Regions from separate parts of the Homo sapiens genome. Here regions 2, 3, 4, 5, 6 and 7 are each linked to region 1. Evidence: fine-mapped QTL for protein levels in blood plasma. A gene starts in region 1. Each other region holds a variant in brackets. All regions are shown on one strand. Distances are from middle to middle.

Region 1 (4,288 bases):
CACAAAGTGCCCAAAGTCACCCCGTGGGGGAGTCAGGATTCAAATCCAGGCCATCTGGCCCCAGAGTCCATAAAGATAAACATAAGGTTTGTTTATTCCTTTGGCAATTATCTACTATTTGCTGCTCAGTATTCTAGACACTATGGATTCCAAATTCTGGGTTTTTCAAAATCTTTTCAGTAACACTTTTGTAGTGAGAATATTATCGGTGGCGAGTCCGCAACACTCCCAGCCCTTGTCTTCTCAGAGGAAAGAATTCAATTGAGAGACGCAGGCAAGTTTTAAAGCAGAGGCAAAGGTTTATTGAAAGAAGCAAAGTACAACTGAGAGATCAAGTGCCCCGCTCAACCTTTGGCTCGGGGCTTTTATACACTGGCTTGGTTCTGGGGTTTCTTCTCCTCCTTGATTCCTCCCTTCGGTGGGCTGCTGCGCCCTCCCTGCATGCGCAATGGCCTGCCAGCACTTGGGAGGGGCCGCATGCGCAGTGTGTTTACTAAGGTTGTGCGCATGCTCACTTGGGGTGATTTTCCCTTACTGGTCCGTCGCCGCAAGAAAAAGGTCATATACAAGTCAGACTCCAACATTTGCCCTTCTGCTCGACCTTACCAGGGAATTGTGGTTTGCTGGCTCCAGATGATGTCAACTATCTGTTAGGGAACTCCTCTCCCTCTTGGCGCCATTCGTGGCCACTTATCATGTCAGAGGGACAGTTTTATGATCGCCTGTCCATCATTTGATGCACTGCCATTTCTGGGGGCCCTCTCCTGCACAAGAACACAATAAACAGCCTTGTTAAAAGAGTCCCTATTTCACTGCAATAAGACTGAGTGGTGGCCAGAGTGGTAGCAGCTGTTGCTTTTGTGGAATTGGATGGACAGCCTGGTAGGAGAAAGGCCCAGGGGTTCTGACCAGCAGTGGGGTCGTGCTGCTCCCTGAGGCCTCTGCTGGGTCCTGGGCCATCAGCAGGGACCTTAGCCAGCAGTGGGCACCTGCAGGGGTGGAGGCCAGGCCTGGGCCATGTGGCAGCTCTAAGGTCCAAAGATTGCTGCTGTGGGAAATTCCCACCCCTGCAAATGACTCCCAGCCAGGGACATCCTTAAACTGCTGCCAGAGGAAGAGTGACATCTATGTCCCCATAAGATCCTTATGCTCCAGAATGTCCTCCCCCACTCTCCTCCCCTCCTGGGCAGGCTGAGGTCCAGGAAGCAAAGGCCCCTAGGCACACTGGGGATGCACCTGTGAGCCCTTTCCTGCTCCAAAGCCTCCCAAAGGCTGGCTCCTTACCCTGAGGCCTCTGCTCAGCTTGTTGCCTCCCAAGAGAACCCTGCCCTGACCAGAGTTTTGGAATGGCATCCTGCAGACCTGGACTTAAATTCCTGCTGGGTGACTGCAGCCTACATCACTTCACCCTGCCAAACCTCAGTTTCTTCATCTCAAGACAAGACTAAAATATCCACCTGGGGTTGCTGATGCAAGGATGAGAGGAGACGTGCAGCTTAACCAGCACAGCGCCTGCACATAGTAGGTGCTCAATAAATATCAGTTTCTTTCCAATTTCTGCTGGGTGCTGCAAGGATCTCAGGAAATGGAAGACTCAGCCGTGCCTGCAAGGAGCCATCAGACTGGTGGTGTGGGGACTGAGGGGAGGGACGGATGAGGATCCCAACAAACCTCAGCCCCAGTGACAGGAGCAACACGGTACAGAGGAGCAGAGAGGCCTGGACTGTGGGGTTCCCTGTGCTTAACGTGGGACATTCTGATCTTAACCTCAGTGCCTGCCAGTGCTGTTTGTGACCTATTGGGAGTCACCCTGTTAATCCCACCACATTCAGTTGGTTGAGGCCATCATGAAAACCTGCCCAATTTCAAGGGAAGGGGGCAGAAACATTACCTTTTGATGGAAGGAATATCAAAGAATTCGTGGGCATATTTTTAAAGGACCACAATTATCAAAAAGCAGAGTGGTTAATGCTGTGGTGGGGAAAGCGCAAAGGGTTCTGGGACCTCAGAGGGGACCCTTTCTAGAATCCAGAGAAGCATGGGAGTGGTCAGGGAAGGCTTCCTGGGGGTGAGGGCAAAGCAGAACTCACAAATGTAAGCAGGGCTGGGGCAAAACTCTAAAAATTAAACACAGTCTGTACTATAAATTTTGTTTTCCAGAATGAAATTTTACTATCTTTACTTACTGCGAATATATGCCCGGGACCATACCCCCAAGAAAATAAAAATTTTAGAGGCTGGGCATGGTGGCCCAAGTCTATAATCCCAGTATTTTGGAAGGCCAAGCGGGAGGCTTACTTGAGCTCAGGAGTTCGACACCAGCCTGGGCAACATAGCAAGACCTCGTCCCTACTAAAATACAAAAAATTAGCTGGACATGGTGGCTCACACCTGTAGTCCCAGCTACTTAGGGGGCTGTGGTGGGAGGATCACTTGAGCCCAGGAAGTTGAGGTTGCAGCGAGCGATGTTCATGCCACTGGACTCCTGCTTGAGCAACAGAGTAGACTTTGTCTCAAAAAATGAAAAAAGAAAAAAAAATTGTACGTATCAACAAGCAAAAACTTTTTTAACACTTATAATTCTACCCCCACAACCAGAGACAATGCCTCATGACTCCTTGCTAAATATTTTCCAGATTGTTGAACATAGAAGCCTATTTTGAACCCCCCAAAATAGAACCTTACTCTATGGTGCCATCGGAAACGGATGCCTCATGACATCCCTTTCCTTGCCAAGAAATACCTTTATTTCTGCAGCCTCACTTTAAGGGGCATGTCATAATTCATTTAACCAATGCCCTTCTGGTGGATACATGAGGTTGGGTCTCACTTCTCCTGTCCTGTTTCCCACAGCATAGCAGTGGTATCTTGGAGCAGTGATTTACTGGCACACTGACTCAATTATGTATTTAAGGGCAAGTCCCTGAAATTGAATTCCTGGGTCACAGGGCATGCAACTGTTTAAACATTTGCCAATTGCCTTCCAGAAAATTTCACCACCAGCAAGGTTTGAGAAACACTGTTTTCCCATTGGGGGAAACATTTATTTTTTAAATAAACGAGCCAATATATTTTAAAAAAGAGAGTTTGGTTGGTGCCAGATGTAGCTTCACTCTCAACCCTGCCCTCTGCTGGGGGTGAGATCTCAAGGGAGCTATGTGGCTTTTTTGAACCTCAGTTTCCTCATCTGCTAAACCAGGCCTTCCTAGCCGAGCTCTTAAGAGACTGGCTGAGATGAGGCAAGATGAACAGTGATGAATATGGGGTCTTTCTGTGGGGAGGGTGGACAGGGATGATCATAGGAGTCAGGCTTCCTCATCCACTGATCTGGGCAGTGAAAACTGGCTTCTAAGTATGACCTTATGACTTCAGTGATGTCGCAAGCAGGTTCCAGTCCCTGTGCCTCCCCTTCCCGCTCCCAGGAACCCATCCAGCCTCAGGAACTGCCCCCAGCCATCGAGCCTTGGCTACTTAAGGGACCTGGGCCCAATCCACAGCTGGGACAGTCCTGGCCCACTGCACTGGGAATCTAGGATGGGGGCCTTGGCCAGAGCCCTGCCGTCCATACTGCTGGCATTGCTGCTTACGTCCACCCCAGAGGCTCTGGGTGCCAACCCCGGCTTGGTCGCCAGGATCACCGACAAGGGACTGCAGTATGGTAAGAAGCCACATCTGCTGGCTGGACTTGGCAAACCCACGCTCCAGGCTGCTCTGGGTACAGTGGGGACAGGGAGTGGGGACACAGACCGGACCCTCTCCCTGGGGCAGTGCCACCTTCTGGGTCAGGTGGCTCTGGCTCCTATTCTGGCCTTACTGCCCACCAGCTGAGTGCCCTGGGCATGTTATTTGTGGTAGTGAGGTCCTCCACCAGCCAACAGAACACAGCTTTGCGTGCAAGTAGTTGATTTGGGAAATGATTCCAGGAAACACTGTAGGGAATCGGTACTGAGATGAGGAAGGGAGGGCAGCCAGGAGAGAGTGTGCAATTAAACCAGCCACCACCTCTGATGATGGGAACCACTCAGCTGGGAAAATTCTGCGTAAAGTTTGGAAACACATGCCTCTGAACTGGAAGTCAGAATTGTGGTCACCTCTAGAGGCAGGCAGAGACCCTGAAGGGCATGAGGGAGGTCTGCCGGGGTGCTGGAAGTTGCCATATCTTGATCCAGGTGGTGATCACATTCCTGTATAAACATTAAAAATTATTTAGCAATACCTTTAAAATTTGTGCCCGTTAGGTACTTTATGTATATTATTCCTCAATTTTAAAGAATGGGCAGGCCAGGCA
Region 2 (4,288 bases), 500 kb after region 1:
TTCTTTGAAAGGTTACCCTGAGACCTGTACCAGCACGGTGATAACGCACTTTATTTTGTTTTGTTTTTTACAGACTTTAATGTTTTTCAGAACCTAAATATGCACAGATACATTCTTCTTGTAAAAATCAATCAACGTAGAAGTGTACAAAGTAAAAAGTCCTTTCTGTCCCTCCCTTCCTCCCTCTCTCCTTCCTCCCCTCCTTTGCTTCTTTTTGTCCATCCATCACTACTGTTGTTAGTTTGATGTTTCTTTTCCAGGTATTTTTTTCATTTGCATATGCACTTGTGGACTTAAGAGAAATATAGAGCCAGGTTTCTTTTTTAAAAAGTTTTTACATAAGTGATGGTATCCTGGATACATTATTCTGCAATTTTCTTTTTTTTTTTCCCATCCAACGGTATATCTTGGAGACGTTTTCATGCCAGAACATGTACAGTACAGATCTGTGCCATTATTTTTATCTGCTGTGTAGTATTCCATAGTATGGATTACCAGAATTTTCTAACTAGCTCCTTATTGATGCAGATTTTTCCAGTAGCTTCGCTTTTGCCACAGTGAATGTTTTATTTCCATGTGCAAATGTTTATCGAGGACAGATGTGATGAAATGAAAGAGATGGATCTGAAGGTATTAAATTTGAATGAGAAAAGTGCTAGACCCCATGGGCTGGTCCCCCTGTCTCTATGGGGCAGCCAAGTGAGGGGAAGGGGCCAGAATACTGTGCTCTGTGGCAGGCTCGTGGGTTGGTTTTAGGGTCCACAGTTGCCTGGGTTTGGATGAGGGGTGTGAGGCTGCCATCAGTCAGCCCTTGACCTCACTGGGCTATGCTCAGCTTCCTGGCAGCACTACAGAGCCTGCTGCTTTCAGCAGGCTGGGAACGGCTGCTTCTTGCTGGTGGAGCTGGTGTTTGGGAGGCTGCCGGGGTGTTAGCTCACAGTGGCGTGGGAGCGTGGGGTGGCAGCTCCCCCACTCCCCTGAGCTCACAGCAGCCTCTGAGTCAACCTCCCCCACCTGCCTGGGGAATGTGAGTTGTTTCCAGAGAAAGGCAGGCTAGGAACTCACTGAGTTTCATCCTCTGGTCCCATATTGCCTTTAGACTAGTGTCCTTGCCCTTGGACCTGCCTGAGCCCCATGCTCACTGCTCTCACTGCCATCACCCTCTGCCCCAGGCGACGCCAGCTCCACCAAGATCCTCCCATATTCCCTGCGTTATCTTACCTCCACACCTTTGTATATGCAATTCCCTCTGTCTGGGACACTCTTCCTGTGACTAACTCCTGTAACCCTCAGCTTTGAGTCCAGCGTGATCTCTGGGGAGCCATCTGTGAGCCTTTTCCCGGCCCTGGTTAAAGTAGCAACTCAATACGTAGCTGATGTTTACTGAGAGACAGTGTAGTGTCATGGCTAGGAGCACAGACCCTGCAGTTTGTCCTCCAGGATTCAAATCCTAGCTCTACCGTTTACTAGCTGTGCATCCTTGGGAAAGTTACTTTACTTCTCAGTGCCTCCATCTCCCCATCGGTAAAAATGAGGATGATGATGTACCCGCTTCATAACGTTGTTGGGGGGTTAAATTAAGTTGATAAATGTTGAAGTGGTATGGTCAGAGCTACGTAAGTGGTATAAATTGTTGTTATTCTACACTATTCTACATTTACGTAATCTATTATTACAGCATATTCTGATTGTCATCATTGTTATTATTTATCAGGTGCTTTGTACCAGGCAGCTTGCCTTACATATGTTATCTCGGTTAATCTTCACAGCAACTCTCTGAGGTTAGAGAGTCAAACCCCATTTTTAAAAAATAGCTTGGGGTTCAGTTTACATATTATAAAATTTGCCCACTTTAAGTGTACTATTCAATGATTTTCAGTAAATTTACAGAATTGTGCATCCATCAGCCACAATCCAGTTGTAAAACATTGCCATCGCTGAGTGGTGTGGCTAACACTTGTTATCCCAGCACTTTGGGAGGCCAAGGTAGAGGATCGCTTAAGCCCAGGAGTTCTAGACCAGCCTGGAGAGCCTGTCTGTACTGAAAAAAAAAAAAAAAAAAAAAAAAAAAAGCCAGCCGTGGTGGCACTTGCCTGTGGTCCCAGCTACTTGGAAGGCTTAGGCAGGAGGATCGCTTGAATCCGGGAGGTTAAATCTGCAG[T/C]GAGCCATGATTGAACCACTGCACTCTAGCCTGGGTGACAGAGCAAGACCCCATCTCAAAAACAAACAGAAAGCCTTTTCATCATCCCAAAAAGAAGCCTCATGCCCATTTGCAGTGACTCCTGGTTCCCAGACCCAGGCAACTATAATCTACTTTCTGTCTGTATAGATTTGCCTTTTCTGGACATATTATTTACATGGAATCATACAGTATATGATCTTTGTGATTGGCTTCTTTCATTCAGAATACTGCTTTCAAGGTTCATCCTTGGTGTGACATCATATATCAGGGCTTCATTCCTTTTCATTGCCCTGTAGTATTCCATTGTATAGATATTCCGCATTTTGTTTATCCATTCACCAGTAGGTGAACGTTTGGATTATTTCTATTTTGGGGTAGGATGAAGAATGCTGGAAGGCAAATTTGGGTACAAGTCTTTGTGTGGATATATGTTTTCATTTCTCTTGGGTCATTACCTAGGAATAGAATTGTTGGGTCATATGGTAAATTATGTTTAACTTTTTAAGAAACTGCTGTACTGTCTTGGAAAATGGCTTCACTGTGTGAATTCTCATCCCCCATTTTACAGATGAGAAATTTGAAGCTCAGAGAGACTAAGTCACCTGCCAAGGTCTCACAGGTTTTAAGTGTCAGACTCAATCCCAGGATTCAAACCCAGATCAGTTTCTCCGAAGCCCATGTATTTAACCACCAGGCAGTCCTGTACTTCCTGCTTTTGTTTTCACTAGAAAACTAGAGAACCCTCAGTTGCTGTACTGATCTGTGTTTGTTTTGGCCTTAGGCATCCTGGTGTTTCTGCTGGCATCTTGGGCCCTTTGATTTGGGGCCCCCAAGATAAACTCTTTAGCCCCAGATATAACTTCTTTCTAGGGCCACAATAGCCCAGCCTCCCTTGAAACCATTGAATGTATGTTAAGTTGTTAGAGACTTCTGTTTTTCTCTCAGAATGTGTAGGGTTTTCTTTATGGAAATTCTCATTCAAAAAATGTTTGAGTGATTCTTCTGTACTCTAAATTTAACTCTTATTAAATTTAATGATTTTTCTCACTGTAAAAGTTTTCAAACTCTTTTTTAAGCAGTGGAAACTTTTCTTTAAATGAGATATTATGCAGAAACCCAATATGTAAAACAAAGGAAGGAGCTGTTCTGACTGGGGTCAGGTGGGTGGGGTGCTCAGTCATCCCTGCCACCTGCAACCCCCTCCCCCACCCCCAGGCACAGTGCTGGACACCTGGGCCTTGCCACCACCATCTTAAACCAGCAGCTCATCTACAGGAACTAGCTCAGACTTTCACTTTTGGTCCTTTTAAAAAGGGAAGTTTCTTTTCTTCTAATTATTAAAAAAAAAAAAACCCTGTTATTGTTACAGAAACTTTTAGAAGTACAGAAAAAAAGAAGCATTAAGAAGAAGATAAAATCACCCATATTCCCCCTGAACAGCAACAACCATTGATAATATTTTGGTATTGTTGTGTCAGGCAGCGTCCTGGGAGGAAACAAATGGTGATTTTATATGGGGTGATTTGTGGAAAGTTTGATAAAGGGGCAGTTTGTAAAGGGTTTAGGGAAGTGGTCCTCAAACTTTTTGGTCTCAGAGGCCCTTTATATTCTTAAAACCTGAGAACTCCTAAAAGCTTTGGTTTAGCTGGGTTCTATCTACCCATATTTACTGTATTCGAAATTTAAACGGAGGCATTAAATATTTATTCATTCATTAAGTCAGAATGATAAACACATTATCTGTTGGCTATCTGCTTCTGCGTAGCAGATGAACTCAAAATTTAGCAGCTTAAAACAATAAACATATACTGCCTCACACAATTTCTGTGGCTCAGGGATCCAGAGCAGCTCAGCTGGGTGGTTCTCGTTCAGGATATCTCATAAGGTTGCAGTCACTTCAGGATTTACCTGGGGCTGGAGAATCCACTTCCAAGATGGCTCACTGGCATGGCTCTTGGCAGGAGGCCTCAGTTCCCTGCCATGTGGCCCTCTCTATAGGACAGCTCGAGTGTTCTCTCAGCATGGCAGGTGGCTTTTTTCAGAGTGAGTGATCCAAGAGATAGAGGAATCCGCAATGCCTTTATGACCTTGTGTTGGAAATCATGT
Region 3 (4,288 bases), 520 kb after region 1:
GAAAGACCACCGGAGTCCCCCACCTCTCACAGAGGGATCTGCCAGGACTTGGGTGCACAGGGTGTAGGGCCTAGGTACCAGCAGAGAGCCAGGCTCTGAGAGGCAGACAAGAAGTGGGTGTTTCTGGGTGACACTGTGGGACTAACATGTCTCTGACCCAGTTTGAGAGTGCCTGGCCCCTCCTGGAGCTGGAGCTGCAGAAATCGATTTGCAGACTGCCGGTTTCCACTTAATTAGCATGGCCTCCTTCTGGCTGGGAAAACACCATTAAATGGGCTGGGTTGGCCTGGAATCATGCCGGTGGCCTCGGCCCTGGTTCTCTGGGGCTATCTGTCTCTTGGGCTCTGTCCCCTTAGCCAGGCTGGAATTCAGAATGGCCCGAGTTTCTGGTTTGGAGTATGAGGCAAATTCTACCCACGTCCAGGCCCAAGTGTTAGATGATCCTGGGGCCCCGGTTGAGGGAACTGGAAGGAGAAATAGAGGCTTCACTCTTCATACTCTGCCTCCTTGGGCCCATTGGTCAGTGTCCTGGCACACAGACCTCTGACTTGCACAGGGCACCTACCCTGTGCCATGTACACTGCTGCATTCTTTTTTTTTCTTTTTTTTTTTTGAGACGGAGTCTCACTCTGTCGCCCAGGCTGGAGTGCAGTGGCGCGATCTCGGCTCACTGCGAGCTCCGCCTCCCAGGTTCACGCCATTCTCCTGCCTCAGCCTTCCGAGTAGCTGGGACTACAGGTGCCCGCCACCACGGCCGGCTAATTTTTTTGTATTTTTAGTAGAAATGGGGTTTCACCGTGTTAGCCAGGATGGTCTCGATCTCCTGACCTTTGTGATCCGCCTGCCTCGGCCTCCTAAAGCACTGGGATTACAGGCGTGAGCCGCCGCGCCCGGCCTGCTGCATTCTTTAGATGCGTCACCTGGTACACCTTCCACTCACGTCCTGCACAGGTGGGCTCCACTTCACAGATGAGGAGACAGAGGTGCCGAGGGGTTGTCACTTACTGAATGTTCCCATGGCAGTAGGTGGCAGGGCCGGATTCCTATCTCCGGGTCTCCTGCTTCTGGTGTAATCCCAGCGGCCCCTGCAGAGCCTGCCTCTGTTTTGAGGGCACCACTCATCACCTTGGCTTTAAAAAGTTGAAAAGTGGCCAGGGGCGATGCCTCACACCTGTAATTCCAGCACTTTGAGAGGCCGAGTTGGGCGGATCATGAGGTCAGGAGTTCGAGACCAGCCTGGCCAACATGGTGAAACCCTGTCTCTACTAAAAATACAAAAATTAGCCAGACATGGTGGCGTGTGCCAGTAATCCCAGCTACTCAGGAGGCTGGGGCAGGAGAATTGCTTGAACCCTGGAAGGAGAGGTTGCAGTAAGGTGAGATCATGCCCCTGCACTCCAGCCTGGGCGACAGAGTGAGACTCTTGTCTCGGAGAAAAAAAAAATTAAAAATAAATAAATAAATAATAAAAATTCGAGAGGTTTGATTTCTGCTTCTGGTTTCAGAGGAAGGAAAATCACTTAGGCAATGGGCCCCTGGGGAACAGAATAGCTCCTAAATCCCGGGTGTGCTGTCCTCTGTGGGCTGAGTGTCTGTGCAGCGGGAAGAAGGGGCACCTCTGGGTTCTACCCCAGACTTGCTGCATGACCTTCAGCAACTGACTTGATTTCTCTGAGTCTCTTTCCCTCATCTGTAGAATGGGGCACAGTAACAGCCTCCTTTGCAATGTGGATGACACAGAATGCCCCGGAAGGTGCGTTGACACATGGTCAGCGTCCCGTAGCAGCTGCCTGTTATCTCGCCAGCACTCTTGTGGCTAGCCCTTCAGAAACGAACCCAAAGAAGGCCTGCTTGCTTTTTCTCACACCATGGATGTCTGGGGTGTGAGGCAAGGCACATCTTTTTCCCATGGAGGGGATACAGCCC[G/A]CCATGCAGGAGATGGCCTGGGATGGAGGGTGGGTCTCCTGGGCCTGGAGCTCAGCCTCTGTCTGGTGATGTCAGGAATCTGCACTGTGGAGCAGAGGCACCCTGCAGTGTGCAAAGTACTGGTGTTTTCTTTTAAATTGAGGTAAAACTCACAAAACACAAAATTAACCATTTAAAAGTGTACAATTTAGTGGCATTTAAGTACCTTCACAAAGCTGTACAGTCATCACCTCTGCTTAGTTCCAGAACATTTTCATTGTCCCAAAAGGAAACCCTGGACTCATTAGCAGTCACTCCCCAGTTTCCTCTTCCCCCTAGCCCCTGGCAGCCGCTAATCTACTTTCTGTCTCTATGGATTTATCTGTTCTGGATATTTCATATAATATGTGACTTTTCGTGTCTGGCTTCTTTCACTTGGCGTAATGTTTTTCGGGTTCATCCACGCTGTAGCATGTGTCAGTACATTATTCCTTTTACATCTGGATCATGTTACATTGTGTGGATAGACCCCCTGTCCCCCGCCAACCACACACACCCAGGCTGGAGTCACCCTAAGGTCCACCTCTGCAGTGATGGTTAAAGCGATGTCCCCAAAGGGCACTGTGGTCTTGGCTCCTTGATCTCACCAGCCATTCATGTCCAAACATCAGCCTGGTGCTGATGGGGACGAGGTGGGGAGTGATTCTGGGGGATGGGGATAGTTAAAGATCCACCAGGGACAGATGAGCTTCCTGTGTGGTCCAACTCAGGAGTCACCAGGGTCCATGGTTCAGATGCTGGGATCTGGAGCGAGACCATCTGGGCTCAAATCCTAGCTCTGTTGCCTATTGGGTGAACTTGGGCAAACCATTCAATCTCTCTGTGCCTCAGTTTTTCTTTTGGTTAAATAGAATAATAATACACTACCTACTTAAAAGGGTTGTACCAGAGCTAAATGAAGCCTTGCTTTAGCACAGTGCCTGGCACAGAGGAATATTTCCAAAATATGTTAGTTGTCCAAAATGTGTTAGCATTTCCAAAATGTGTTAGCTGTCAGCTCTTGTGATTCTTTGATTCTTTTTTTTCCCCCCGAGATGGAGTCTTGCTCTGTTGCCCAGGCTGGAGTGCCATGGTGTGAACTTGGCTCACTGCAACCTCCGCCTCCTGGGTTCAAGCAATTCTCCTACCTCAGCCTCCCGAGTAGCTGGGATTACAGGCGCCCGCCACCACGCCCAGCTAATTTTTGTATTTTTAGTAGAGACGGGGTTTCATCATGTTGGCCAGGCTGGCCTCAAACTCCCGACCTCAGGTGATCCGCCCATCTTGGCCTCCCTAAGTGCCAGGATTACAGGTGTGAGCCACCACACCTGGCCGTGATTCTTTGATTCTATCAGTTGGTGTTTCCCCCTAAAATTGCAGTCCTGTGAGTGTGCTGAGGCCGTGCCTGGGCACTATGCACCCTCATAGCATGGGTTGCCTTTTCTTACTGCTCCTCCCCTGGGCTGTTTTCCATCTATTTCAGGGCTTTCTTGTTACTGTGCATCACTGTGAGCTCCACAGAGCAAAGGCTCACTCTGGTTTGCTCAGCACAGTGTACACGCCGGGCACAGTCCCTCTGAACAACTGCATGCCCACACCACTCCTGCGTTTCACCTCAGGACCCCATGGCCCACCCCTGTGAGCTAAGCTCATGCCTTTTTACTTTGAGATAATTATAGATTTACATGCAGTTAAAAAAAATACAGAGAGATCCCTTCTGTTCTACACCCAGTTTACCCAAATGGTAAGTTTTTTTTTTTTTTGGAGACAGGGTCTCACTCTGTCACCCAGGCTGGAGTGCAGTGGCGTGATCTCAGCTCACTGCAATCTCTGTCTCCTGGGTTCAAGTGATTCTTCTGCCTCAGCCTCCTGAGTAGCTGGGATTACAGGCACATGCCACCTCGCCTGGCTAGTTTTTGTTTTTAGTACAGACGGGGTTTCACTATGTTGGTCAGGCTGGTCTTGAACTCCTGGCCTCAAGTGATCCTCCCGCCTCAGCCTCCCAAATGGTAACATTTTGCAAAACTAATATATGTTATCACAACCAGTAAATTGACATTGATACGGTTCACCAATTGGATCCAGATTTTGCCAGTTTTATATGCATTCATTTGTGTATGGATGTGTGTGTTTGGCTCTGTGAAATCTTTGATGGCAGGAGCAGATTTGTGTGACCAGCACTGCAGTCAAGAGGCAGAATTATGAAATACTGGTTACATGATAAAATTATAATATTTTGGACATATGGATTAGGTAAAATATATCATTAAAATATCACCTGTTTTTATTTTTTAAATGTTGTTAACAAAACATTTCAAATCACATATGTGGCCTATGTTATATT
Region 4 (4,288 bases), 830 kb after region 1:
AGATAAATGAAAGATTAAAAAATTAAAATCATCTAGGCTTGGCATGGTGGCTCACGCCTGTAATCCCAGCACTTTGGGAGACCAAGGTGAGCAAATTGCTTGAGCTGAGGAGTTTGAGACCAGCCCGGGCAACATGACAAAACCCAGTCTCTACAAAAAAAAGGAAAAATCATCTGGGTGTGGTGGTGCATGCCTGTAGTCCCAGCTGCTCAGAGCCTGAGGCAGGAGGATCACCAGAACCTGGGGACGTTGAGGCTGCAGTGAGCCGTGATCATGGGGCCACTGCACTCTAACCTGGGTAACAGAGTAAGACCTGTCTCAAAAAAAATTAAAATTATCTGATATTCTGCTACTTAGAGATAACCACCATTCATATTCAACCTTCTAAACATTCTCCATGTATACTTTAAAATTGGTGATTACAGTAATTGCTTTATCTTTTATCTCATTTAACACATCATAAATATCCTTCTATTTTAAGTAAATAGGGGGCCATATCATCATTTTAAATAGCTGCATAGTATTCCATCATATGAAGCATCAATTTATTAGTATTTCTTAATGAGTCCAATACTTTTGGACCTTTAGGCTGTTTGCAAGCTCTTGCTGTTATAAACAATATTGTGATAAAACTCCTTGGAAGAAACATCTTCTGGCACTTGCCTAATTATTTCCTTAGAATAATTCTTTGAAGTAGGATTGCTCGTCAAAAGAAATGTACTTTCCAAGGGCTTTTGTTGCATATTGCCAAATTGCTGTCCAGAAACACTGCATTAATTTTCAGTCCTAGCAGTAATGCATAGGAATGTCCTTTTCTTGATTTCCACATCAGTCCAGCGTATTGTCAATCTCTTAAACCTTTGCTAATTCTAACAGTGAAAAATTGCACTTCGTTGTTTCAATTTACATTTCTTTGATTCCTAGTGAGTTTAGACTATTTTTTTAAAGGTGCATTGTTAGAATACCTTCTTGGTGATCCTATTGGAATCCCAAGAATACAGAGGAGACAATTTGTTCTTTCATTCATTCATTCATTTAACATGTTTATTTGCACCTACTATGTGCTAGGCACAGTTTTAGAAGCTGAAGTTACAACAGGGAATAAGGCAGACCCAGTCCCTGTTTCAGAGCCTATATATAGCAGTGTGTGTGTTTGGGGGGACTAGGATCTTAACCCCAGGGACATCAGGCTCCTGAAGTACTAGCGGAGTAATTATAGAAAGTAGCTACTCAGTTCTAGTCAGCATGGGCTCAGCTGTACTACAGCCTTAGGCAAAAAGAAAAAAATCCATAATGTGAATCCTATCTTTATTCAAATTTTGATATTTTGTTCATTATGGATTTTTGCACTAATTATGATTTTAAAATGTTGCCATATAATATGTATTCTGATTGCTGAGTTTTCTTGGTGCACTTTTAAGTTCTGTACCTGAGAAAAGTGCCTCACTCATCTTGCTCTAATCTCGGCCCTCCTAATCTATTTCTGATTTCTAAAATTTCTGTGCACACACAGGTGAGACCCTGCAACCTGAACTCAGGGCTTTCCAGACTCATAAATAAGTGCTGTTCTGACTACACATCCAGAAAGATTTCAAGTCAGTCCAATAACTATTACTTTGAGGAATTGCTGTGTTCCAGGGCCTGTGTCAGGCCCTGGGATATAAAGACAAGCACTCAGTCACCATTTTGAAGGTGAGATTTAGAGGCCTAAGTAAACAATATACCCTGTAATCGTCCATCAGCCATCTCTGTCCTTAGAAGTACATGTGAGTAGTTATGCCATCTTGTTCCCATCCTGGTCTCAATCTTTGGTGGAATGATTACCACGTTCTCAAAGGTCTTGGAAAACTAAATGTTAATAATGTTAACCTAAACATAAAATAACTGAAAGCTATTTAAGTTTCCCCTGTGTGCCAAGCATGACACTAGGCACTTGTAGCAGTTAAGTAAAAGGGAGAATTTAATTATGGAGTTGATTACACAGGTGATGGAAAAGTTGAGAAGCTTAGTAGGAGAGGGTGAGGCCATCCAGACTTTATTCAAAAGTGGGAAGCCACTACCATCTCCAGGGCTAGAGAGGCAAAGGGAAATGATGTAGTTATCAGGGCTTTGGGGCAGAAGTTGAAATATCAAGTGTCCTGTTCCACAGGAGCTGAAAACATCGAGGAGGTTCTGCTCTTGCTAGAGATGTTGCCTGGGGAGGGAGGAAGAAGATGATGGAAAAATAGCCAGAATTTTCCTTCCTCTTGCCTTCCAGTCTCCCAACAGGACTTCCCATTGGCCCTCTCCTGCTGGAAGCCAGCTGATCTTGAAGCCAAGTCAGAGGTTGGCTCTCTTTGATAGA[G/A]AGGAGAGTTAGGGAAGAGGGAGGAACAGATCTGATTGCAAAGAAGTCACAGAATAGCATCCTCCTGAACATAAACCATCTTTAAAAATTCTCATTACCACCCTGAAGTTAAGTACTCTTGATTCCATTATAAAAACATGACACCAGAAACCAAGAGGAGCTAAGAGATAGCTACAGGGACACACAGTAATAGGGGAATTGGATTTGAGGTTAGGCTTGCTTGGGGCCAAGGTCCTATTTTTCCCACACCACAGGCTTCCTCTCTACCCTGAATCATCCCACCATCATCCAGGGCATCTCCAGTGCTCCTGAGGGTCACCCCTCCCTTGCCCTTGCTTTACAGTTGCTTGGCTGCCCCATCTCCAATGACTGGCACTTACTCTCCATCAGCCACCATGTTGCACAACTCCTTTGAATTTTATGTGAATGGTATTCCTGGAGTTATCCAATGGGATGGCCCTGTTGACAACTACCTAAGCCCATGACCATGGTTTGGATCTAGTCATTATATTTGAACACTTGGCCTCTGAAATCTTAGGTTCTAAGAGGTCCTTCCCTGCTGTCCTTCTTCCTCCTTTCTTTCACTTTTGTTGACTTGCCTTTTTGACCTTTCTCTAACCCCATTGGTATTTATTTCCCTACTCTGAGTCTACCAGCCCTTCCTGGATTGAATCCCCAATATGCCCAATCTAGGCTTCATTGTTGTATACCACTCCTGTGACCTTTGTCTGATACACTCTTGGCAGTCCTACGTAACCTTTATCATTCTTTGCTGGAGAAAACCACACAACTGTGGAGATTGAGCTCATTACACACTTATGATTTCCACGCCTGCTTAGTGCCCTTGGATGGTCCCCTTTGCTCAGCTGTAGTTTAAGAACTTATTTTCCCCTGTAGTACTTACTTCTAACCTCATGATCTCCCCGTGGGCCCCAGGTTGCCTTTTTCCGATAAAGGTCCCAATGCCTACATTCATCTGAGCCAGCTGGGCTGCCAGTGGAAATGCGGGGGTGAGAGGACAGGGCAGAGCACAAAGATTCAGCGTGTCTTCACAGAGGTGGTAATGGTGGTGCAGGTGTAACACCAGAGGTACAGGCAGGAAGACTAAGACCAGATGTTGGCCATTTTCTTCTAGTGCATGCAAAATGCTTTATTTTCTTGAGGTTTCCAATTTCCCAAGATTCCTAGGCTTGATGGCTTCATAAGGGTTAACTCACTATCCTATGGCTCTGCCATTAATTACTCCAGTGGCTGCAGACACTGCACGGAGCTGGATCCTGGTTGTTCCAGCTTCAGAGTGGGTTTATTGCCAACCATGCATTATGAAGAACTAATTGTGAGCCCCTTGCACCTGCTGGTTCCCCCTGTGGCTGGGACTCAGGAAGTGGGGGGAGAGTTATTAATGAGCTTGTTGCTCATTATAATAAAACAATGGGGAAGTTGGCAAAGGAGCTGGTGGTCCAGGTGTGGTGTCAGAGAAGGCTGGTTGGCATTTCTGGAAACATGACTTTACAGTCATATCATCTGCCTCCTTCCCTGGCTCATGCTGTGACACCAAGTGATAAAAGAGCTGTCATCCTGAGGGCCACTCAGAGTCCTTGTGAACTCATGATCAGCGGAAGCCACCTGGATGGAGGAATTGCTGAGCCAGCACTCTGTCCTGGCTGAGATGGGCTGGGGCATGGGGAATGCTGGGATTTCAGCCCCAGAGCAGAGGGGACAGACCTGGCTGTGCCCTGGGTTATCTAGGCTTAATAGATACAGCTGAGAGGAGTGGAAGCCAGTGGAAGGCCACCAGAATGACAACCTCTTGCACGTTGAAGAGCTCTGGATAGGTAATGGTTTGGGGCACAGATACAGGGCTGGGACTAGGGTAAGGCAAGCCAGGGTGCAGAATTTAAGGAGGCCTTCACTCTCAGGCTTGTGCAAATTCAGAAGCAGCAT
Region 5 (4,288 bases), 1.0 Mb after region 1:
CCCAGTCACACTAGTATATAGTGGCAGCAAAGATGGAATGTGAGTTCAAAGGATCAACAAACTCATAGGTTCTTTCTGTCCTAGACTGACTTGTGAATAATAGCACAATAGAGGAAGACAGTTGGGTCAAATTAGTTATATGTTGTGTGTAGAAAAACAGCCTTCCAATAATGGCACTTCCCATGTTAATTATTTTGCATGGTGTGTAAAAAGAGCTTGACACCTATGTAGGAGGTTCAAAGCAGCTCCCAAACTATATTGTCTTCATGCAGCCCAGCTACCGACTGAGTATGGCTAGATTGTCAGTACACTGCTAACTTCTGTGTTCTCTCCTGTAATAGCAGACTGGACTCTGCAGGCCTGATCAAGTAGGAATGGGTGGGTTGAAAGTCGTGATCATTATAAATCAATTATCTGCAGTTTGCTCAAGTAAGGGTCCTTGTCATTATGCATTATAGCTTAATTTTCCCAACTAAATTGACCTTTCAGTGGCCCATGCCCATTATTGTTTATTTTAGAAAACTTCTACCATTGCCCATTCTTTAGAGCAGAGCTGCCCAATAGAACTTTATAGAATGATGGATATATTCTGTATCTGCACTGTCTCCTATAGTAGCCACTAGACATGCACAGCTATTGAGTGATTGAAATGTGGCTGGTGCAACTAAAGAACTGATTTGTTAATTTATTGGGAATTTTAATTAATTTAAATATATATAGCCATGTGTGGCTGGTATCGACTACATGGACAGTGCAGCTCTAGGAATGCTGTGATTCCCATGTCTCATTCTCACAGCTGCTGGGTGGCACTGGCAGTTGACAGCCCTCAAGAGAGTCCTCTGGAAATTTCTGTCAGCCAAAGAAAGCCCCTTGGCCCAGGGTCACACTTCTTTCTGGGACAGCCCACATTCAGTGACTGGTCTGGGCAGGATATAATGGTCTGGCCCCCTCATCCCAATTTGGAACAGCTCTGAAGGGATATTCTAACTTCAGAACTCCTTATGGGACTGGCAAGGCTTCTATTGCAACTGTATCCCAGTTCTGTTTCTCCCCTGCCTTGTGTTCTTCCTGCACCCCTCACAGATGTTGACCCCAAGAGCATGCCCCAGTAACTGGCTGCATGTGAATGTCTGTCTCAGAGTTGGCTTCTTGGGAGCCTGATTTATGACACTGTCCCTGGCCTCCCACCCAATTCTGCACATCTCAGATATAAACTGTTAAAACAAGAAAGCAAATGCATTGTTAATTTTTTCATAACTTGCATTTTACATCAGCCTGGGCCCATATCACACCGGGAAAAGGAAATAAAGTCATCTGAATAAAGGATACATTTCTGCAAGAAGTTCTCTGTCCAAGGAGTCAGTAGAAGGAAACACTATGAATGACACTGTATTCTAAATTTTGTCACTGTCACTTTCTCTTCCCCCCACAAGGTCATTTTCTTAATTCAACAAACACTGACTGTGCATGCACCTCCTATATTCTAGACCAACATTAGGGTTCTAGGTGCACAGAGATGACAAATGCAGTATGGTTCTTGTTCTCAGTGGCTCATTGTGTGGGTGCAGAAGGAGATGTTCAGGAGGCATTAGATAATCCAGTGCCAAAAGTGCCACATTTAAGGTACCAGGGTACACTGAAGATATGCAGGAGGAGGAGGGACTCTTCTGTGGGGATCAGGAAACTGTGACTCTCAGACTAGTTTTGTATGGGTCATGAGTTAAAAATGTTTTCCAAATTTTATATTGTTGAAAAATACTCAAAAGTAGAATCATATTTCATGATACATGGAAATCACATGAAATTCAAATTTCAGTGTCTATACAGAAAATCTTATTGGACCACAGCCATGCTCATTAGTTTACATATCATCTATGGCTGCTTTCACACACCACCACCAGGGTTGAGTAGTTGCAGCAGAAAGTGTATACCACCTGTAAGGCAGAAAGTAAGATATTTACTCTCTGGCCCTCTACAGGAAGTTTGCCGACTCTTGGGTTAGTGCAATCAAGGAGGTCTATCTGTAAAGAGTTGCCTCTGAACTGGGTTTTAAAGCATGAAAGGGAATTTTCCAGGCAGAAAAGGACCAGATGAAGGTAACTCTGGTAGAAGAAACAGCATGTGCGGAGGCATACAGGCAAGAGGCAGGAGGCAAGAAAGGAATAGTATGCATAAATAATAAGTATTTCAGGCTGGGAGAGGTGGCTTACACCGGTAATCTCAGAGATTTGGGAGGCCAAGATAGGAAGGTCACTTGAAGCTAGGAGTTAGAGACCAGACTGGGCAACAAAGTGAGACCCCATCGATAAAATAAATAAATAAATAAATTAGCTGTTTGGGAGGCTGAAGTTAGAGGATCACTTGAGCCCAGGAGTTCAAGGTTGTAGTAAGCTGTGAATGCACCACTACATTCCAGCTTGGGCAGCAGAGGGAAACCCTATCTCTTACAAAAAAAAAAAAAAAATGTTGGTGCATTTGGGACATTTTGTTTGGAGTGAGGTAGGAAGCAAGTATGAAAAACTGGATTTTCATGCTAAGGAATTTATTCTTCATTTCTTAAACAGTGAGGAG[T/A]CATTGAAGTGTTTTAAGCAGAGGAGTAGTTTGGCCAGTTTGGGGTTTCAAGGAGATCATTCTGGTGGCCCTTACGGAGGAAGCTTTGGAGGAGGCGAGACCAACGCAGGGAGTATTTCAACAATGAAGACACCAAGAGCTTGACGTGGAGTAGCAGCGGTGGGGATTCCAGTTCCTATGTGAGCTCAAGAACCCAGAGTGTAGGAAGTTCATTTTGACAGACTGGTGGGATGAAGCCAGGACATGGGGCGGGAAAAGGTTAGGAAAGGAAAGAGTGAATCAGAGGCGGGGGTTCTGTGGGTGGACAGGCAGCTGGACAGGCAGCAGCAGAAGCGATGTAGGACGCAGCTTGGGGGACAGCTGAAGGGCTTTGGGGTTACAGCAGCGGAAGTGACTTGAGCAGAGGAGGGACTCTGGACATCATGGACAATGGGGCACTGGGAAGTGAGGAGCTGGCGGCAGGGTGGGCACAGGATGATGACGATGATAACAGTAATGATGATAATAGCAATAATAACAGTGGAAGGTCAAAGGCAGCTTCCTCTGAGATGGCCAGATGAGGGAGGGGGCTAGTGTCCAGCTCACTTTCATAAGGTCGGGCTGTAAGTGGTGAAAAGCAAGCTTTGTGTGGTAGAAACAGAGGCCAGCTGCTGCCAGAGGGGAAAGGAAGGTGGAGGCTGAGGTGGGATATTTTCCAAACCCAAGAACCAAAGTAAATAGGAAATGGAATCTTTAATGCTATTTGAGCTCAAACAAAAGATCACCACAGCTACTTCAGTTGAGTTCCAGTGATCCCTTTCACTTGGCCAGGAATTAGCGAGAGGCCTCCCCAGCTGTGCATCTCTCCTCTAAGCCTTCACCTGAGAATGAGCTGAGGTTTGAATGAGGCCTTTATCCTGAGAGTTCAGGGGGCTGTTCTGGCTCCCTGATCAAATTCAAACCTCTGTTTTGGGAGACAGACATGGGAAAAATATTTACCCCTTTCATGTTGACACATGGATATACAGGGCAATTCTGTCAGAATCTACACGAAGCCAGAGCTGCATTTTAAGCCAGTATCAGGGGCCACTGTTTTTGGGGTTGCTTAGGTGACCGTGTTTGGGGTCAGTTGCCTGATATAGAGGGAGTGCTAAACAGGGGCTTGTACAGAAGATGACTTGGGGAGTTTGAGTCCACTTACCCTTCTCTACACTGTGAGAAGCAATAACATTCTTGTTAACCAGTAGTATATAACATTATCTCACTTAATCCTTCCAGCAACAGCTCTCTTAAGTTAAAACTAATATTAGCCTTATTGTACGGATGGAGAAACTGATACCAAGAGGAGGCTAGAATAGTTGTGCAAGTCAGAGTCAGTGGGAAAACCAGATTCAAGCTGAGCAACAAAACAGAAGAGACTCTGATCTTGTATATCACTGGAGGATTGAGGAATTGGAGGAGCATCTTCCAGGGAACGTCTCTGTTGACTGTGGACCAGAATGCTCTTCATCTGTCCTCCTGGCTATCTCCTTCTCAACTGTCATGTGTCCTCCCCAGGGTGGCCTTCTCTGATCACTCAAGCCAAAGGATATCTCAGCATCCTGTACGGTTTTTTCAAGGTACTGGATATAATTGTATTTATTTATTACCATGCCCCCTCATTTATTTTGCTTGTTTTCTTCAGTAGAATATAAGCTTTGTGTAGTCCAGGGCTGCGTCTGTATTGCTCACTCTTAAA
Region 6 (4,288 bases), 510 kb after region 1:
AAGCGCTGCATTTATCTTGTTGAGTTTTGAGCCCAATTATCTACCTGTTCAGCTAGTTTTGGATTCTTGAATGATACGTTAGGACTTTTGTGTCACCAGTGACAAAAACTCAAGCTAACAAGGTTAACAAAACAGTGTTCACGTAGTGGAGAGTTCAAAGATAGCACAGCTTCAGGCACTTGTGGATGCATGAGACTACCAAGAAATGTCTCTGAGAAGACGACTATCAGCAGCTTGAAATATATATCCTAAATCCTTTTGGCAACCTCAGTAAGAATAATTTATTTTCCCAGAAGTGTCCCAGGCTCAACAAGTCCCAGAATGGAACCTCATTGGCTATGAGGTCGATTCCTGAGTCAATTGTAATGGCTAGATAAGGGAAGCAATGCTATGATTGGTCTGGTTGGAGCCATATGCCCACTCCTGGAGTCTGCTTCTCCCAAACACATGGACTGACACTTGGTATTATGTTGTACCTACCCACTCCCCCAAAAATATTGGGATGATATTTCCAGAAGGAGGGAGAATGGATGCTTGTCAGGCCATAATTAAATATATTCACCTCAAATGAAATATTCACCGGCAGTTTCTACTCCATATCATTCATAATTGCAATAAGGATTTGCCTTCTAGACCAGAATTGTGCAATAGAATTTTTTTCTGATGATGGAAATGTGCTGTCCAATACAATAGCTGCTAAATTTTTTATTGTATTTAGTTAGAAATAATGTAGTCAACTGTGGCTAAGCTAGAGGCTGCTGACTTAGAAACACAGTCATAGGCCATTATCCAAATCCCTGATAAAAATGTTGAATAGGGCCCAGCGTGGTGCTCACGCCTGTTAATCGCAGCACTTTGGGAGGCCGAGGTGGGCAGATCACCTGAGGTCAGGAGTTCGAGACCAGCCTGGCCAACATGGTGAAACCCTGTCTCTACTAAAAAATACAAAAAATAACCAGGTGTGGTGGTGGGCACCTGTAGTCCCAGGTACTCGGGAGGCTGAGGCAAAAGAATTGCTTGAACACGGGAGGTGGAGGTTGCAGTGAGCCGAGATCATGCCACTGCACTCCAGCCTGGGCAATAGAACAAGACTCCATCTCAAAAAAAAAAAAAAAATTGTTGAATAGGTCATGGGCAGAGATGCTGCCTGGGGCCACACCCCCGGAGACCTTTTCCAGATTAATGTATCAAAGTCAACTACTGGGAATAGTTGTGCAACTGAAATGAACTTAACTACATTGTTATTTGCAGTTGGTATGTGGGAACAGTAGCAGGAGTCTCGACAATTAAAAAACAATTAAAAAAAAAAAAAGCTGGCTGGGCATAGTGGCTCACGCCTGTAATCCCAGCACTTTGGGAGGCCAAGGTGGGTGGATCACCAGAGGTCAGGAGTTCGAGACCAGCCTGGCCAACATGGTGAAACCTAGTCTCTACTAAAAATACAAAAATTAGCTGGGCATGGTGGTGCATGCCTGTAATCCCAGCTACTCAGGAGGCTGAGGCAGGAGAATTGCTTGAATACAGGAGGTGGAGGTTGCAGTGAGTTGAGATTGCACCATTGCACTCCAGCCTGGGTGACAGAGTGAGACTCCATCTTAAAAAAAAAAAAACCATCTTTCCTACAAAACTTAGAAGACGATTTCTCTCTGAGGGTTAAATTACAACAAAATGTGATGGATCAGAGTAGCAATTCATGCACAGACATTTATGGAACATAGTCTGGACATCATCAGGCTGGCATTGGTTGTTCAGTGGTGAACAAAACAAAATGGGCCAGACCACCTTGGAGCTCAGAGTCTAGCAAAGTCATTGTGAAGAGAGCATAGTATTAACATGCTTAACAATGGATGGTGTTATTATAAAGAAGGCCTTGCTGGGCATGGTGGCTCATACCTGTAATCCCAGCACTTTGGGAGGCCAAGACAGGAGGATCACTTGAGACCAAGAGTTTGAAACCAGTCTGGGCAACATATTGAGACTGTATCTCTACCAAAAACAAAAAC[A/G]AAAACAAAAACAAAAGCCAGGCATGGTGGTGTGGGCCTGTAGTCCTAGCTGCTTGGGAGGCTGAGGCCGGAGAATTGCTTAAGCCCATGTGGGCAAGGCTGCAGTAAGTCACAATTGTGCCACTGCACTCCAGCCTGGGTGACAGAGCAAGGCCCTGTATCTCGCGGGGACGGCGGGGGGGGAAGGCCTTGTCAAGAACAGATGCCAGAAAAAGGGGGCTAGGAGATCATTTATGAACAATTCTATTTAAATATCGTTCAAGGGAGAGGACACTGTGAGCAACAACTTTGGTGATTACCATCCCATTGCTAAGGACAATCTGATTATGGAAAAAGGGGACTTCAACCCATCTTGGTGATCTTGGCGTAATCATTAAACATGATGATTATGTACAACCTTCTGATTATAATTTGGCGTCCCAGCCAGGTCTGCCTACAAGCACAGAATGAGTTGACCGTGCTTAACTGAATTTCAGACATGCAAGGCAATTATTCTCCTGTGATCCTGGCATTGTGTTTTTATGCAGCAGCCTCATAAACTTGGATAGTATGAGACTGCTCTTGGGAGAAGAAACTGCTGTTGGTAGGCTGGTCAACCATGGTCGATCACCAAGGTGATACCATCCTAGGGATCTTGGGGATATTTAACCAATTGGAACTCCCTTGGAACCTCCCCCAAATCAAACCACAATGACACTCAACCAGCATTTCCCCAGGGTGCTAATAAGGAGGTGTATGAGAGGCTTGTCAGGTGCTCAATGGAGTCTAGACATTTTCTATCTTTGACATTTCTCAGTGTAGTGAACCCATTGAGAAGATAGATGAGGCATTGCTAGCATGATTGATTCTTGCTTGGCTTCTAGGGACCACTGTTTCCTTTTTTTTTTTTTTTTTTTTTGCGGGGGGTGGGGGTAGCATGGGGGGATAAAGTCTTGCTCTGTTGCCCAGGCTGGAGTGCAGTGGCATGATCTCGGCTCACTGCAACCTCCGCCTCCCAGGTTCAAGTGATTTTCCTGTCTCCGTCTCCTGAGTAGCTGGGATTACAGGTGCCAACCACCACGCCCAGCTAATTTTTGTAGTTTTAGTAGAGACGGTTTCACCATGTTGGCCAGGCTGGTCTCAAACTCCTGACCTCAGGTGATCCATTCCCCTCGGTCTCCCAAAGTGCTGGAATTACAGGCATGACCCATTGCGCCCGGCCCCACTGTTTCCTTTCTAATCGAGTGAGAAAATGGTCAGTATTTCTGTCAACAAAATTCATGAGGCTCTTTGTACGCACAGACTTCAGGCCTTTCTCTCAACAATCGCCAAAGCTGGAGCATCACATGGAGGAACACTGGGGTTTGAAAAACAGGAATGTTCCAGAATCTTCTCAGAGTATTACATTTTCCAACATGTCCATCCCATATTTGTACCAACAAACAGAGCTGGTCCCACTGCCCTCATCCTTTGTCTACCATGTTAGGCTGAGGAAGTTGCATGCAGAGCAGAGGTGAAGACTAAGAGAAGAAGATACAAGAAACCTGCTGAGTAGGGGAGAGGGAAATGGTACCTCTGCCAGTTATGCTGGAAAAGCTAAATGAAACCCAAATCTTGATGGAGGTGTTAGGGTTTTCAGTCTTTCAAGAGAAGCTCAGGACACAGGCTTTTTGGCTTAAGGACCCCAAATTTCCTGGGCACCACAAAAGTAGTAACGGCAGTCCTCCAGGTGAATCAGTGTCAAGAGCTAGACTGTAATCACTTGCCTTTTGTTGCATTACAAGCCACTCTTGAAACACTTAGTGGATTGAAACAACAACTTCTTATTTCTCAATGATTCTTTGGCTTGACTGGGCACTCTTTCTGCTGGTCTTCCCTGGGCAGTTCTTCTGCTGGTTCTGCCTGGGCTCACTCATGAGGCTACAGGTAGCTGCTGGGTCAGCCAGTGTCTGGGGCTCAGCTGGGATGACCTGGCCTCTCTCTGCCTGTGGTCCTTTATCCAGCATGATGGTCTCAGGGTTCCAAGCAAGTAAGCCCCAATGCACAAGTATTTATCCAGCCTTTGCCTGCATCGCGCTTGCTCATGTCTCATTGGCTAAAACGGATCACGTGGCCAAGCTCAGAGTCAGTGTGGGAAGAGTCTATACAAGCGCTTGGGTACTGAAAGGCATGATTCATTGGGGGCCATTGTTATAATCTACCACACATTCTAGACTTTGCTTTGCTTTAGATCCGAATTCTAGCAACTCGATGTGATAACCCTGGGCACATCATGTTGCTCGAACACTGTAATTGGCTATTGATGT
Region 7 (4,288 bases), 640 kb after region 1:
CAGTCATTTTCTAAACTTTATTTTTAACTACTTTTAGACTAATAGAAAAATTGCAAAAAACAATACAGAATTCCCTTATACTCTTCACTACTAGTGCAGAGATCGAAAGCAGGCCATTAACATTGGTACAATAATAGTAATTAGACTATAGGCCTTATTTAAATCTCATCAGTTTTCTTACTAAGGTTCTTTTTTAGTTCTAGGATCCTACATTGCATTTAGTTGTTGTTTCTCCCTAATCTTTTCTAGGTTGTGCGAATTCCTCAATATGTCTTCATCTTTCATGAACTTGACACTTTAAAAGACTAATGGGATTTACTTTGTAGAATGTTCCTCAGTTTGGGTTTATGTCATGTTTTCTCATGATTAGAAGGAGCTTATGTATTTTTGGCAAGAATACTACAGAAATGATATTGTATCCTTAGTGCATCATTTCAAGGGTTCATAATGTTGATATGTCTTGTCACTGGTAATAGCAACTTTGGTCACTTGGTTAAGGTTCCAGCTTTTGCCTGTGAAACTACTGTCTTTCCCTTTTTAGTTGATATGTATCTTGGGGGACATATTTTCACACTGCAAATAGTCTACTTTTCTTCCAACTCTCACCTACTAAGTTTAGTATCCCCCTCAGTGGATCTTGTCTGTAGCAGTGATGATTTTCTTTTCTCCTCTTTCCCTCTATCTTTATTAAATGTAATTTTCTGTAAGGAAGAACTGTGCTTTCTTCCTCACTTATTTCTTAGATTATTTGCGTGTATCAATATGGATTCATAGATACTTATTTTTTTCTATGTGTTAAAGCCCAATACTGTCATTATTTATTGTGTTGCTCAGATTGTTTCATCTTTGAACATTAGAAGCTCCTTCATTTTGGCTCCTGTTTTCTTTCTAAAGCTTTCATTTTTTTGACCGCTTCCTTACTTTCTAGTACTACAAGATGTTTCAGGCTTGTCTTATATTTTTTCCTACACAAGCCCTGGTTCCTTTTATTGGAGAATGATGTTTAGAAATCATGATCTGGGGCCGGGCGTGGTGGCTCACACCTGTAATCCCAGCACTTTGGGCGGCCAAAGTGGGTGGATCACCTGAGGTCAGGAGTTTGAGACCAGCCTGGCCAACATGGCAAAACCTGGTCTCTACTAAAAATACAAAAAATTAGCCGGGCATGGTGTTGCATACTTGTAATCCCATCTACTAGGGAGGCTGAGGCAGGAGAATTGCTTAAACCCAGAAGTCGGAGGTTGCAGTGAGCCGAGATCACGCCATTGCACTCCAGCCTGGGCAACAGAGCGAGACTCTGTCTCAAAAAAAAAAAAAAAAAAAAGAAATCATGATCCGGATGCTAGAGTGCTCATTGCTACGAGATGTCATTGCTGAGTCTCAGTGAGCAGACTTAGGAAATATATGTATGAATATTAAGCCATACATTATAAAAACATCTAGCTATCTGTATCTGTCTATCCATCTATATTTTAAACACCATGAGTTTATGCAAATGCTTCTGATTCCAATCTAATACCATAGGGCTCTTTTGAGCCTTTCTTTATTTATAACTTCTCTGCAACAATGAGAAGCTTAGTCCTTATCATCTACAGTATATTTGTGGATTCATTAAAATAGTTTCAGAATTGCTAACTTGTAACCTTGTTTGGATATTTACTAACTAGATTACAGCATTTATGTACAGTTCTTTCTGTCTTTAGCCTTACAACATACAGTCAAGATATATTTTTCCATCATTCCTTAGGTAAGTTCTTTTCTTCTCCACCCCCTGCAGTGTGGTTATGTTATTCATTTGTAGTATAGAAAGGGTCATCTGTTAGTGTTTATATTTCCTTTAGGTTTCCCTCCACATCCTGGTTGGTTTTATTTGTCTTCTGGGTGTTTAAAAAGTATGTGAAACATGCATGGCTGTGATTCTCAGAGTCAGAGCTACACAAAAAGATCTATTGAGAGCATTGACACGCCCTCTTTATCCCTGTTCCCCTCCCTCCATTTCCCCTTCTTTCTACACCTTTCCCACCCATTCCCTGTAGACAACCATTTCTTAGTATCTATATTATCCTTCCTTTATTTCTTTTGAACACATGAGCAGGTACAC[G/A]CAGTAACTTTTAAAATCTTTTTTCTATTGTAGAAGTAATACATGTTCATTGTAAAACTATTAGATGTTAGAAAAACATGTAACTGATAACCACTGTTATCCGTATTGGATTTTAAGTGCATATAATCAAATAAATACATAGATATTAAATAAGTAGGTAACTCAGATAAATACACTTAATCAAATTTTTTTTTTTTTTTTTTGAGACAGAATCTCTCTCTGTCACCCAGGCTGGAGTGCAGTGGCAGGATCTTGGCTCACTGCAACCTCCACCTCCCAGGTTCAAGCGATTCTCCTGCCTCAGCCTCCTGAGTAGTCACGATTACAGGCATGTGCCACCACACCCACCTACGTTTTTATATTTTTGGTAGAGACGGGGTTTCACCATGTTGGCCAGGCTGGTCTTGACGTCAAGTGATCTGCCTACCTCAGCCTCCCAAAGTGCTGGGATTACCGGCATGAGCCGCCGTGCCTGTTCAATCAAATTTTATATATGTGTACTAATCTAATGGTGTATAGTCATATATATAAAATCCAGTTGTTTTATTTAATATGGCTGAAATGTGTTGTGTGGTTGATATTTATGTTGAGCCATCTCTATATGTGCTTAAAAATTCTTTGTTCTACAGAGTTAGCACTGTTTTGAGTGACCTGTGGATAATTTTTTGTTCCCTGAGGCATCTGTAGTACATGGTGATTTTCCAGGACTGGGGTGTCAGAATGCTGGAATTGCGCCTTAGTTCTTCTGTTGATCAGCTTTGATGTGAACTTAAGTAAATCACCTAACATTACCAAGCCTCAGATCCTCCATCTGTAAAATAATTCCCAAAGTTCTGCTGGGACAAGAACTGTACTTTTTCCTTTCTTAGTGATTTTAACACAATACGGGAGCATCTTGGGGGAGATTGCTCTGCAAAAGTGGTATCATATGTATACTTAGATGTGATTTTGTTTGTAGTACCTTGCAGAAGCCGGCTGGACAGCTGAAGGAAGAGTGGTAGGAGTGACCCAGCCTCGAAGAGTGGCTGCTGTTACAGTGAGTTTCTTTTTGTGTTGGAAAGATTCTATCTGTGTTGTCTACATTTGTGATTTGTTTACATTTCCTAAAGGCTTTAAATGAATAGAAGTTGCTCCTTAAGAGTTTAGGTCTTCAGTTTTTATGTTTTTTTTATTTTTATTTTTTTCCTCAGACAGAGTCTCACTCTGTTGCCCAGGCTGGGGTGCAATGGAGCTATCTCAACTCACTGCAACCTCCGCCTCCTGGGTTCAAGCAATTCTCCTGCCTCAGCCTCCCGAGTAGCTGGGATTACAGGCATGTGCCACTACGCCTGGCTAATTTTTTTATATTTTTAGTAGAGACGGGGTTTCACCATGTTGGCCAGGCTGTTCTCAAACTCCTGATCTTGTGATCTGCCTGCCTCAGCCTCCCAAAATGCTGGGATTACAGGCATGAGCCACTGTGCCTGGCCAGGTCTTCTGTTTTAAAAGAATTATGATTTGAATATTTTTGTTAAATTGATCCTGCACATTATGAACGTTTTAAACAATAAAGTGCTGAGGAAATAAAAAAACAATATATTTTTAAAACCCCAAATTTCACCATCCAACATAAACAATGTGAACATTTGTGAACATCATTCCAAGCTTCTCCTAAAGATGAAGATGAATGGTTGACTGGCTGGATAGAAATAATTTTATAAAAATGAGATCATATTTAATATTTATTTTTTATTGAATTTAACAAAATAGGAAACTTTAGTGAAATAGGAGTAGCGACTGTACTTTGGATAAATGTTCACCGCAAGATAATTTATTAAAGCTTGAAAAGTAAGAAAAAAGAGTACAAAAAAATTCAAGATGTTACCTATATTTCAAATTACGCCTTATAGTTTCCTGTTATGAAAGAAGAGGAAATTAGCACATGTATTCTTCTTTCCACCTTCCCTTTCTCCATTTGTTGTAGATACAGTCCTGTCATTTTCATTTCAAGATTTATAATATACATGTTCTTAATCATAATTCTCACAGGTGTTTAACCTTAATTCTAGCTTGAATGGATTCATTACTCATCATTAGTTATTTTCTATGGTTTTGCTAACCTTGAATTGCTTGTTTTGCTTTTATTTCTTGTATTGGCTGAATTTTATCATTCAGCTTTTTTTTTTTTTTAATATGCTTGAGAATGTT

Direction of the effects. Alleles are on the strand shown, and positions count from the first base shown. The strength of an association depends on the size of the effect and on how common the allele is.
With allele C in place of T in region 2, the plasma level of the protein whose gene starts at base 3,500 in region 1 is lower (moderate association).
With allele A in place of G in region 3, the plasma level of the protein whose gene starts at base 3,500 in region 1 is lower (moderate association).
With allele G in place of A in region 4, the plasma level of the protein whose gene starts at base 3,500 in region 1 is higher (moderate association).
As copies of T replace A in region 5, the plasma level of the protein whose gene starts at base 3,500 in region 1 goes up (moderate association).
As copies of G replace A in region 6, the plasma level of the protein whose gene starts at base 3,500 in region 1 goes down (moderate association).
For the plasma level of the protein whose gene starts at base 3,500 in region 1, G is the high allele of the variant in region 7 and A is the other (moderate association).

What was found. PIP is the posterior inclusion probability: the model's chance that the variant is causal. The UK Biobank Pharma Proteomics Project read protein levels with antibody pairs (Olink). The fine-mapping took linkage between variants from a reference panel, not from the people measured, so its PIPs are less certain.
Region 2: its variant is fine-mapped to the plasma level of the LBP protein (UK Biobank, PIP above 0.99).
Region 3: its variant is fine-mapped to the plasma level of the LBP protein (UK Biobank, PIP above 0.99).
Region 4: its variant is fine-mapped to the plasma level of the LBP protein (UK Biobank, PIP above 0.99).
Region 5: its variant is fine-mapped to the plasma level of the LBP protein (UK Biobank, PIP above 0.99).
Region 6: its variant is fine-mapped to the plasma level of the LBP protein (UK Biobank, PIP above 0.99).
Region 7: its variant is fine-mapped to the plasma level of the LBP protein (UK Biobank, PIP above 0.99).

Annotation. Positions count from the first base shown.
Region 1 is chr20:38,342,983-38,347,270 of GRCh38, forward strand. It overlaps LBP (lipopolysaccharide binding protein), which reads left to right and starts at 3,500. Exons shown (of 15, transcript NM_004139.5): 1 at 3,500-3,658. The coding sequence starts at 3,535. RefSeq lists an enhancer at 776-1,553.
Region 2 is chr20:38,839,310-38,843,597 of GRCh38, forward strand. All of the region lies in intron 2 of PPP1R16B (protein phosphatase 1 regulatory subunit 16B), which reads left to right. Among named protein-coding and RNA genes, the nearest start is that of PPP1R16B, 36 kb to the left of the region's middle. RefSeq lists an enhancer at 3,454-3,563. The variant T/C (reference allele first, on the strand shown) is at 2,162.
Region 3 is chr20:38,864,695-38,868,982 of GRCh38, forward strand. The region is part of intron 2 of PPP1R16B (protein phosphatase 1 regulatory subunit 16B); the gene reads left to right. Among named protein-coding and RNA genes, the nearest start is that of FAM83D, 60 kb to the right of the region's middle. RefSeq lists enhancers at 1,877-1,976, 1,997-2,066. The variant G/A (reference allele first, on the strand shown) is at 1,927.
Region 4 is chr20:39,172,668-39,176,955 of GRCh38, forward strand. The region is part of intron 2 of LOC107985448 (a long non-coding RNA gene); the gene reads left to right. Among named protein-coding and RNA genes, the nearest start is that of LINC01734, 50 kb to the right of the region's middle. The variant G/A (reference allele first, on the strand shown) is at 2,345.
Region 5 is chr20:39,392,721-39,397,008 of GRCh38, forward strand. No RefSeq gene overlaps it. Among named protein-coding and RNA genes, the nearest start is that of LINC01734, 170 kb to the left of the region's middle. The variant T/A (reference allele first, on the strand shown) is at 2,572.
Region 6 is chr20:38,849,868-38,854,155 of GRCh38, forward strand. The region is part of intron 2 of PPP1R16B (protein phosphatase 1 regulatory subunit 16B); the gene reads left to right. Among named protein-coding and RNA genes, the nearest start is that of PPP1R16B, 46 kb to the left of the region's middle. The variant A/G (reference allele first, on the strand shown) is at 2,004.
Region 7 is chr20:38,980,640-38,984,927 of GRCh38, forward strand. It overlaps DHX35 (DEAH-box helicase 35), which reads left to right. Exons shown (of 22, transcript NM_021931.4): 4 at 3,060-3,137. Among named protein-coding and RNA genes, the nearest start is that of DHX35, 20 kb to the left of the region's middle. The variant G/A (reference allele first, on the strand shown) is at 2,102.